Linked DNA regions of Homo sapiens. The protein of the gene in region 2 purifies or fractionates together with the protein of the main gene of each other region. This does not show direct contact. Each region holds a gene or a part of one and is shown on either strand. Other genes may lie near its edges. The genes, in order: EDEM1, CDCP2 and EHD4.

Region 1 (3,727 bases), on a different chromosome or scaffold from region 2:
CCATGTCTTGTCACTCTAGGAATGGTATCTCAGCCTGATGACCTGTGTCCTCTCCTTAGGTGCTGATAGGAGATGTGGAAGATGCCATCTGCCTTCATGCCTTCTACTATGCCATATGGAAACGATATGGTGCCCTCCCTGAGAGATATAACTGGCAGCTGCAGGCCCCTGACGTTCTCTTCTACCCACTGAGACCAGAGTTAGTGGAATCCACATATCTCCTCTACCAGGTACTAGAGTTGTGTTTTTTTTTTTTTCCTTTCACTGCCTCCCCTGACCCCAGCAGTTCATTCTTAATGAACATTTGCTGAGTGATTTAGGGTTATGTTGTTTCATAGTGACTCTGATTGAGTTACCCCCTATCCGTAGTCTTGTTAGTGTTCAGTGTCATTCGTAACTTCACAGGACAGAGAAGGCATCTGCAGTCAAATATGTTTTTAACCTAATATTCTACAAAGCTGAATCATGTTTTTACCGTAGGACTTATAACTCACATCTTTAAGTATTCATGAGGAAGATTTGGTACTAAGGTGTTTTCCAAATGTATGTGACCAGAAGACCCGTTTTTAGGATGCAATTCTGCATCAGTGTACTGTGGAGCCCCGGTCTGTGTAACAACTATTCAGACAAAAAGAAAATTCATTTTCTTGGTTGTAAAGGAAATCATCTTGGATTCATCTGGATGCCTGTTTTTGTTTAATGTTTGTGTTTGTGTGTGTGTGTGTGTATATATATATACACACACACACACACACATATATATGTAATAGTGTTCATCCTTTGTGAAATTACTTCAGTGGTAGAGGGAATGTGACTTTAACTGTGAAATGTCTTCTTCCTGACGGTTGAAGCCAGGTATTTATACTTCTGTGTATGCCATACATATATACACACTGAGAGTCCTCCTCCATCCACATGCACAGCAGCACGAGTGGTTAACTCACCAAGAAACTGGCCTTGGTGAAATTCAGTAGGCCGGTAACAGATGCCCACCGTGGGCCAGCCCTAGCAAGCAGGGCCTGAGTTTTAGAAACTCTGGTAGTGGGGAGTTTTAGAAACTCTGGTAGTGGAGCTAACACTAAGATTTGAATTTATTTATTCAACAATTTTTTTATACCAAATCCTTGCCGTTTGCTTCAGATGAAAAAAGGGGAAAGAAATCCTGTGAAACTGGTAGTAGTCCTCATGCCTAAAAAGGGACTTCATGAGTTTTAGGTAACCTCTCAAAAAAGGGAAAAGATAATAGCCACCTGTTTGGCCTTTCTGAGCCCAGTAGAAAGACTGTACACGGAGGATGGCGTGCCGGTTACTGGCTGATTTCTTCTCTTAAGCTTAGTCCTGTGGCCTGTGAGCTTACTCCTCTTTGTTTCTGTCACTGCTTCTTTCATGTTTTCCGTTTCTCCTTCACGTTGACAGAGATGTCTTGCACTCTTCAGCTTTACCCTCCGAAGCCACACCCTGTGCACTTTTAATCTGGAGACTGCTAACCTTGTTGTTTGTTGCTGCAATCTGGCACTAGGCATGAATTAAAGATCCCCAACTTTTAAACTGTTTGTTGGATAAAGGCTTATCTTCCCAGAGAAGTTTTTCTCTAGTAAAACCATCTAAGAGTATGTGTGAGAAGAGTAGGCAACTGAGGACTGATTTCTCAGGGTGATTAGAAAGGAAAGGGTGGCGGCCTCCTTTCATACTTCGGAAAGTCTTGTTCCCATCAGCCTTTCCTCATGGTGCCATAACTGGAATGGCGGCAAGGTCCTCTTTCCTGTGCCTGTGTCTTAAGTTTCTGGAGAGTTCTGAGGCAAGATAGAAATTGGATTTGTTCTCAGATATGGTGCTGTCAGCGTGGGCATTGTTTTGTTTCTAATCATGATGGCAACCAAAGTAGACTATTGTTCTACCCTGGAACAGATGGTCTTACCCCTGGCTAAAGTTAACCAAATCACAGGTACTCTTTGATGTGAACTGACGGAGTACCTTAGTCCTCTAACCATTGTGACCCTGCAAGATAAATGACCTGGGCCCTGTTTCTTCCTTTGGCTGGCGACTCGTCTCCATGGGGAAGCCCCGCAGTCACCATGATGTTTGTCGATGGCATGTCTTCCAAGCCCATGCTGGATCACATTCTCTCGTGTTCTCTCTAGGCAACCAAGAATCCCTTCTACCTCCATGTAGGAATGGATATTCTGCAGAGTCTGGAAAAGTACACAAAAGTCAAGTCAGTTTTCTAAGTTCCTACCTTTTTCTGTCAGCCACTTTTAATTTATTTCAAATTGTTTTGGGGAAATATCCTAGTTTGCATTTTAATTTATAGAACCAGGTCATTAATGTTACATTTACAGGGAAATTGCTTACCTTTTGGTGTAGTAGAACCTTTCCATTGTACTGAGAACTGCCCTTTCTTTTCCGTGAGGTTCTAGCAGATTATGGGTGTTCATTCTAACTTCTTTCCCCTAGTTATATAATAACATATACGCTAAAATGTTTAGGGAGTACAGAAAATATAAAGCAGTAGAATATTATCACTGTAATCTCCACATACAGAGAAAACTGTAGTCAGTATTGAAATGTATGTACTTATAATCTTTTAAATATTTTTATATATGATGTGTGTATATATGTATATATAAGAAACATACTCTATATTTCAATTTTGTGACATGCTTTTTTTTACCTGCTGTAAGTTTTTTTTTTTAAGTACTATCTTAAATAATAAGTCAATACTCAAATAATAAGTCAATTCTCAATAATAAGTCAATTCTACAAGTATTAGGACTAGAAATTTAAATTAGTCCTTTTACATTTGTTGCCGGTCATTTTCCTGGTGCCACGTTATGCTTCTGGCCAGCACCCCGCCACCACGCCCACACCCTCTAACTCACCTGATAATTTAGCAGCCAAAAGCACTTGCTAAGTAAATTTGCAAACAACCCAGGCTATAAAAAAGGAGAGCCCCTCAATGTAAACATAGTTTCATATGGTGTTGGATGACTGGTTGATTATTCTGATAAGAGAATGTTTCTGCTTCTTAAGTGAATCAGCAGGTGGGAAGGAAGAGAGGCAGGACTGACCAGATGATTGTTTTGTAGGTGTGGGTACGCCACGCTGCATCACGTCATTGACAAGTCCACAGAAGACCGGATGGAGAGCTTCTTTCTCAGTGAGACCTGTAAATATTTGTATCTGGTATGTGTGTTGCAAGATGAACCCAGGAATATTTAGTATTGCTTAGAGCAAGCATTCGCATAGTCTTCCATCTGACAGGTACTTACTGGCTAAAGCTATGTGCTGGACATTGTGCATTCCCAGGATGCAAACGCTGTCAGAACCAAAGGATATTACTATCTTCTTTCATGGTTTCCAACCTTGTTGAAAAGTCATTTGTCAAGTAAACCAAGAACTGAACTTATGATTACAAACTGTGGGAAATCCTGGTAACGATTGATACAGAACCAGTGTTAGTTCTGTATCTAACTACAGGTGGTCGGGGAAGACGCCTCTGAGGAAGAGAGCTGTGTTCATAATGGCTTCTCACTTCTCTTGATGTATGTGATCTTAGCCAAGACCTGCAGCTCAGCCTTGTCTCTGTCCATACACACATCCTCAGGCACATGAGTGAGTGAGTGTGTGTGTGTGTGTGTGTGTGTGTGTGTGTGTGTAGAGAGAGAGAATTTCTGGACCTGGACGAACCCTTTGGTATTACCTAATGTTCATATGTTCATCATTTCCC
Region 2 (3,500 bases):
GGGGTGAGGACTCACGAAGTTAGAAGCTGGGGAAGGAGGCTCTGCAATAGTGGAAACAAGCGGGAGCCGTACCGTCCAGTCTTAGGGGTCCCGAGAGTGGGCAAGGGTGTAGCCAATGGAGAAGGAGCTGGAGAAGACCATTCATGGGGGGGGCAGGACAAACTGGTGGGATGGAGGAAGGAGACTGCAAAGACTGAGGCTGCAAAGCCTCCCCTTCGCCCTCAGTGGACCCACTCCCACAGCCCAGCTGACCTCCGATGTAGGCCACAGAGAAGCCCCTGCGGGTGGTGCTGCGGTCTGTGTGCAGCAGAAGCAGAAGCTGGTTGTGGCTTGAGGTCACGGGTGGTGGCAGGTGGTGTCCACACCAATTCCCCAGCAGGGGTGCCTCCTCGCTGGCCCCATCGAAGGCCGCCAGATGGTCAAAGTCACAGGTCTTGGTCAGGCTGTTGGGCTCCTCCAGGTCCAGGTCCAGGAAGAACACCTTGACCTGGTAGCCCGGGGGCAGGCGGATGGTCCAGTGGCAGCGGATGTTGTTGGGGTAGGAGCTGGGGTACTGTGGGCTGGAGAAGTTGCCCCGCATGGCCATGTATACCTCCTGGCATTCTCCTGGATGGGGGATGGGGAGGTGGAAGGAGCAACAGTGAGGGGAGAGGAGAAGTCACTCTCTGCAGTTACAGCTTAGGCAGCAGGTGCCACAGTGGTCCAAAAACCACCAGCAGGTTGTGGGCACCATGGCTAGCACACCAGACAATTGATCCCAACTATCTGAAAGTTGGGATGCTTGATCCCAAAGCTTGTTTTAAACTGCAACTAGCTGAAAGCTGGGACTTGCATTCCAGTTGACAGTCCCCTTCACAGGTGTAGGCCCTGTTAGGAATTCAATAATAATACACAATACCTGTCCTCAGAGTTACCTCTGAACTCCCTGGCTTGACAGATGATGTGGTTCATGCCTGGCCTTTCCCCTTTTCTCACTGCCCCATTTGGTATGTACTATGAGCATACCAAACACTCTCTGCCCTCCAGGCCTTTGCACATGCTGTTCCTCCTGCTTGGAATGCCCTTCCCTTCTGCTTCCGTCTAACTCCTTCAGGGTACTGCTCAATTCTCTTCTCCACGAAGTCATCCATGATTCTTACTGATGGATAGCACAGATCATAATGGCTTGCGCTGTCTGTTTCCTTATAATCTCTCTAACTAGACTGTAAAGTTCCCACGACTTCATCCATTCATTTGTACGAAAATTGAGTACCTACTATGTGCCAGGTACAAAGATAAGCCCATAAGGGACTCAGTCAGACAGGGGAGATTGACATGCAAACCACACACAGAAGTGACAAATGTTAGATCATAGTGTAAAAAACTTATATAAGGAGTTGAAAAAAGGATTAATTCTGGTAAAACAGTAAGTCTTCGCAGAGGTGACATGCTTATGTCTTGGCATAGGCCAAGGGTATGCTAGAGCATTCCAGGCAGAGAGAGTGCAGAAAGCTCAAGGCTGCGGGGGGCAGAAAGGTGTGACCCCTGCAAGTGTAATGGGGAGACAGGAGCCCAGTAGGCACAGGAGGATTCAGGGTGGAGCGCCAGCCCCTCCTACCTGAGAAGTAGTAGGCCTTGAAGCCACGGCCTCCGATGTTGAAGTCGGACTTGAAGACCACCTGCAGTTCGTGGCCCAGAGACACGAGGGTGGGGGGCCTGGTGCTGCCACAGTAGTGGTGCCCACGGGTGGGGCCAGGCCCCCCAAGCACAGCCACGTAGTCATAGGTGCACTCTTCATTGCCCTCCACCTGGAAGTCCACGAACACCAGCTTGACGTGGGCAGGGCCAGCGGCCCGGATCACCCAGTGGCACTCCATGCTGTTCGGGTAGTTGTTGGGATACTCAGGACTGGTGAGGACCCCTGACAGGCCAGTCAGGACGCCGCCACACACATCTGCAAGGGAGCCCACTTGAGCTGACCTTTCTTTCTCCTTGTGGCTCCCAGTTTCCTCCCTTGGGAACAAGACACTCCAACATGCTGCCCCCACAGGTATCTCATTAGGGCCTCATTACCATCCAGCAAGCACCTGCTACCCAAGTAGCAAGTGTAGCACGTGCTCAGGCCCAGCATTTGGCACCTATGCTGCCTGTTCAAATCCTCAGAGTAGCCGCACAAGGACTGTGCTGCAGTTTCTCTGATTTTATAATTAAGAAAAGGGAGGCAAAGACAAGTTCAGTAGCTTACTTGAGTTTGAGTTCACCCAGGCAGACCTTGAGATAAGGATTTGAGTGCAAGGAGTTTACTTGGGAGATCCAGGGGCCCCCAGGTGGGGAGGGAGGGAGAGGACAGAGAAGGGGAGGTGTGTTCAAGTCAGCTGCTGACCTTGGGGGGAACTCTGGGGACGGGGTAAAGCACATACTTCAGAGTTCTGTCAATCTAGGAGCAAGGGAGCTGCGGCATTTACATGCCAACTCCCCAGAGTGCAGGCAGAGGGCTGCTGTGGGCTGGGAGTGCCCTACTGAGACTTCAGAAAAAAGCCCTCCAGCATAGAACTGTGGAGGTTGGCAGAAGCACATCGACGTGGCAGGGCCCAGGGAATGTGGTCAGGGCCCTGAGAGCAGGTCACCCGACTGGTAACTGGGAAAGTGGGATTTGAACCCAGGAAGACTAACTATGGATCCTGTGCACTTGACCCTTGTGACCTTCACTGTCCACTCCTACGAGGCCAGTGGGGCACAGAGGCTGAGGTGCCTGAGCTCAGGAATGTGATCAAACCTCCCTAATGGATGAGGAAACCAAGACTTAGAGAGAGGACCTGATGAAGTAGAGCTTGGTTTGACATCTGAAGACAAGTAGTCTCCCATCTCTGCCTTTTATTAGCTGTGTGACTCTAGGGAAGTAACCCAGCCTCTCTGAGCCTCATTGGAACATTAGAAATCATAAGACTGAACCAGCTTGATCCACTGGGCTCAGACTTGAGCACAGTCTGAAAATATGCTGCTGGAAACTCTCAGGAAGCCAGCTTGGCCAGTACAACTACACGGCAAGTGTGGGTGAATGCTGCGACTTGCTGGAGGTCACCAGCAGGGAGGACATACGTGGGATGTGTTTCCTGAGACTCCAGCATCTCGCCCTATGGCACGGCTGTGTGACCAGGGCTCTGGATGGGGCATCTAAGGACTTGGCGTCTTTTCCCAGTGCTGGCCCAGCCATGTAACTTTAGGAAGGCCCTCTCAGGGACTCAGATTTTGTGAAATGAGAGGGCAGGTTTAGATAGCCTGTGAGATCCCTTCCAACACTAACAACCTTCGCGGAGACTTCCCAACTGTGCCCTGGGGCTCCCCAGCAGCCCCCTGGAGCACCTGCTGGCACCTGGTGCAAATTTCATTCTTATGCTGTATTTCAAGCTCTCTTTTAATGTAATGAAAAGATAGCACCCACAGACTTTAATATCTTTAACAAGATATTAAAATTTAAATATTCTACATTTAAAAATTTAACTCATTAGAGGCCATCAATA
Region 3 (3,727 bases), on a different chromosome or scaffold from region 2:
ATGATACGAACCACACAGCCTTTAAAGAAAAGGTTTTATATGAAAGGTTCCATTTTGTTTCTGTATAAAGGCTTTTATCCTGTAAGGAAAAAAAAAAAACACAAAACCCTAGACATAATAAATGCCTGTTTTCTACAAAAACAATGTCTAACTCTGGGTGGACTGATCTCTTCTCAACAGCCCAGGGCAGGGCTGGTCCCTCATTCACCTGTGTCCACAGGGCCGAAGACACTGCACACACTAGGACAGGATTTGATTGAATTTAAATCCTGCCACCCACCAAGGAGACCTCGGGATATTTAATGTTTGAGGGCCACACTAAACGATCACTGCAGAGAACCACCTCTTTTCTTTACTGTAGTTTAAGTATGATAAGTGGGCTTTGCTATTACTTATTGGAAAAACCAGTAAGAAAAGCTAATTTTCAGGCTTCAATGTGATTTGACATGCAAACGGGAAGTTTTGCCAGGGGTTAATAAAGGTTGTGAATTCCAAATTCCTAGCCGAATATGGCTTTGCTGGTAAGCCCCCTGGAAGGGAGGTTGGGAGGGCTGACCAGATGGTCATCGGGGCACTGGGATGGAGGCACGCTGGGGCCTGACTGCCTGCTCTGCTGGAGACTGCAGAATGGATGGCAGATCCACAGTGCATCCCCCTTCCAAACCCAGGAGGCATCTGTCGCCTTCTCTTTGGTAGACAGTCTGGAGACAGCAGAAACCCTCTGCTCTATTTTTTTGCCACTCTAAATATAGCAGAAAACAAAATAAAATAAATAAGATAATCTTTGCTGCCTCCAGGTGCCCTCTGAGGGACAGACAGCTGCTCCAGAGTTGTTCATGAGGACAAAAAGCCCAGGCAGCCTGGAGACCCAGCTGCTCTGGGTGAGCCTTAGCTCACTTCCTGTGGTTCCTGGGACTTACCAGGCCCACCCCCATGCGCATTTCTCCAGGCAGGTTCTGAGGACTCTTTGGACAATTTCTCTTTCTTCTCAACCCTTCAATCTCCTAATCCACCCCCCTACCCCCAATATTTTCATAGAAACTAAGGGAATTTTGGAGGTGAAAGAAGTCATCTAGTTTCCAGTGTCCACCCTCCCCATTCTACAGATGGGGAAACCAAGGCACAGAGAGGGCAGTGCCTTGCCCAAGGTCATTCGGTGAGTCAGTGGTGGAGCAGGCCTGAGGCCCAGGTCCCCCAGTTCCCACCCCGTTCTGCAGCCCACCCCTCAGTCGGCCTTGGGCAGGGACTTCCTGTGCGAGGGGGGCACGAGGTGGGGGGGCAGGCTGCTGGGCAGCTCGTAGCCGTCGAGCTTGATCTTGATGAGGTGCTTGGCCAGCGCGAACTCCTCCTCATCAAGCATGCCGTCGCAGTCGCAGTCGGCCAGCTTCCAGATCTTGCCCAGGACGCTGTTGGGCAGCTTGGAGGTCACCATCTCCTTCTTGGCGTTGACACCTGATATCTTGCCATTGATGGGCGACAGAGTGTAGAAGAGCTCGTCGTAGACGGGCTTGTCTTTGGCCACGACCCACTCCTCCTCGTCGGCGCCCTCCTTGGCACCCTCCCCGTAGCCCTGGTTGAAGGGGCCCTCGGTGGTGCCATCGAAGGCGCCGCCCTGCACCAGCTGCGTGGGCGTGCTCGTCTCCTCCTGGCTGATGAGGTTCATGAGGGGCGAGATCTTGTTGCTCAGCATGTTGTCCACTGCCTCGATCAGCTTGGGCTTCAGCGAGTGGAATTTGGTGAAGTCATAGTTCTCAAGCTGTTCCTGCAGAAGGACAAACCACAGGATGGGTTACATGTGGTCTCTTCAGGGGGAAACAGTTGGGGGCCACTGGAGGGAGACTAATTCTGCCCCAGGCAGACGTCCCACCCACTACTCAGGAGTGCACTCTTTGGGAGCTTCCCACATCCAGATGTACCACATATAGGAGTGGTTGTTTTGGAACAAGAAACAAGTGTTTTTCCTATGGCAGCCAATCTCTGCTGGTGGCCGCATGAGCGACAGCAACCTCCGAGGACTCTGAGAAACCTTCTTTCACCTGCCTTTTTAAAAATGCTCTAGAGTTAGTATTCTATTTCTCAAGGGATTTCACTACACACTTCAGCCGATCTTCATAGCAATCCTGGGAGGAAGGAGGGGCAGGCATTTAGAACCACATTTTACAGAGAGCTGTGAGGGGCTGTCTGGCAGAGTCAAAGCAGAGCCCCTGTCTCCTGGCTCTTGACTAATGCTCTCTGTGCTGGAACACAGAGCTGTGACAGAAGGACTATGTTTACATAAAACAACTAATTAAATACCTTGTTTTCGGAACACGTAAAAAAATGTAGTGTAGGACAGCTTCTTAGTGGCTCTAACCTCTTATGAATGAGCTGAGGGCGCTACTCAACAGGAACCCCGTAGGACCAGCCCCACCAAGTACGGCCTGACCAGGGGCACCTGTGCTACCCCAGGAAGGTATCGAGGCAGGGCCACGGAGACCTTGCATATACAACATAATCATCATGAATCCACTGTCATTTCTAAAATATGGACAAATAAGCAAAAGCTGGAACTTGTAAGAGCAGGGAGTAGGGCTGGGGAGCACGAGGGAATAAACGTAGCTGGTAAGCCTGAGTATCACTGGCCAGGTCAGGACATATCTTAGCTCTACCTGTTGAGTGAGGCAGCCTGTCAGCAGACAGAGCAGCAGAAGCACAGGCTCTAGAGGGGGCCTGGGAAACACTGTGACTGCCCAACCAGGCTGGGGCAGACTACAGGATGCCACAGAGGCTCTGTGGATGGCACCGTAGAAACTGACCTTCCTACCTTGGTTCTCCTTGGTTACTCCATCCATCCATCCATCCATCCATCCATCCATCCATCCATCCATCCATCCAACAACCCACCTGTCCAACTAATCCTCCAACTAACCATCCATCCATTCAACCAACCCTCCATCCATCCATTCAGCCAACAATTCATCCATCCATCCACCTACCCGACCAACTTTTATTTGTCATTTACTCTGCACCAGCCCCTGTTCTGGGGCTTGGGGATACAGAATAAATATGAAAAGCCATAATTCCTGCTTTAAATGAGCTTATGTTGTAATGGAGGAAGGATACTCCAATTGTTTAAAAAAGGACTTGACATAACACAGTGAAAAGGATAACATGAAATCTATAAAGTCATTAGAAAGAAAAAAGCCAAGTCATTAAAAGGGAGAGAGGGGCCAGGCTCAGTGGCTCACACCTGTAATCCCAGCACTTTGGGAGGTCAAGGTGGGAAGACTGCTTGAGCCCAGGAGTTCAAGACCAGCCTGGTCATTAGACCCATATATATATATATACATATGTATGTGTATACATATATGTATGTGTGTATATATATGTATGTGTATATATATGTATGTGTATATATATGTATGTATATATATACATATGTATATATATATGTTAGGGAGAGGAAGGGAATAATCACATCAGATGGCTAAGGTTAAGGAAAACTACCGCCTGTATAAGGAGAAGAGCTCAGTTGCCCAGGGGGACCCCTGGGGACCCTCACTGTCTAAGGAGAGAAAACACTTGTTTATTGCAAGAGACAAACTTTCTGTGGCTCTGAACTGCGAGAGTTACCTAGAGCTTTACATGACAGGCTTCAAAGATCTGATGAAAAGTGTCTTCAACAGTAGTTTTATTAAATAAATGCAGAAATGTTCCAGGTATGGCAGGTTTTATATGTGAAGTATTT

Evidence for each region.
Region 1: the proteins of CDCP2 (region 2) and EDEM1 purify together in Homo sapiens (affinity purification with mass spectrometry; one large-scale study listed by BioGRID and IntAct). This does not show direct contact.
Region 3: the proteins of CDCP2 (region 2) and EHD4 purify together in Homo sapiens (affinity purification with mass spectrometry; one large-scale study listed by BioGRID and IntAct). This does not show direct contact.

The regions. Positions count from the first base shown.
Region 1 is NC_000003.12:5,208,034-5,211,760, forward strand, and holds part of EDEM1 (ER degradation-enhancing alpha-mannosidase-like protein 1), read left to right. Parts: intron 1-59; coding exon 60-230; intron 231-2,141; coding exon 2,142-2,215; intron 2,216-3,086; coding exon 3,087-3,183; intron 3,184-3,727. UniProt on the Homo sapiens protein: Extracts misfolded glycoproteins, but not glycoproteins undergoing productive folding, from the calnexin cycle.
Region 2 is NC_000001.11:54,139,501-54,143,000, forward strand, and holds part of CDCP2 (CUB domain-containing protein 2 isoform 1 precursor), read right to left. Parts: intron 1,934-3,500; coding exon 1,598-1,933; intron 607-1,597; coding exon 253-606; coding exon of another isoform or gene 20-252; exon of another isoform or gene 1-19.
Region 3 is NC_000015.10:41,899,420-41,903,146, forward strand, and holds part of EHD4 (EH domain-containing protein 4), read right to left. Parts: intron 1,763-3,727; coding exon 1,226-1,762; 3' UTR 1-1,225. UniProt on the Homo sapiens protein: ATP- and membrane-binding protein that probably controls membrane reorganization/tubulation upon ATP hydrolysis. Plays a role in early endosomal transport.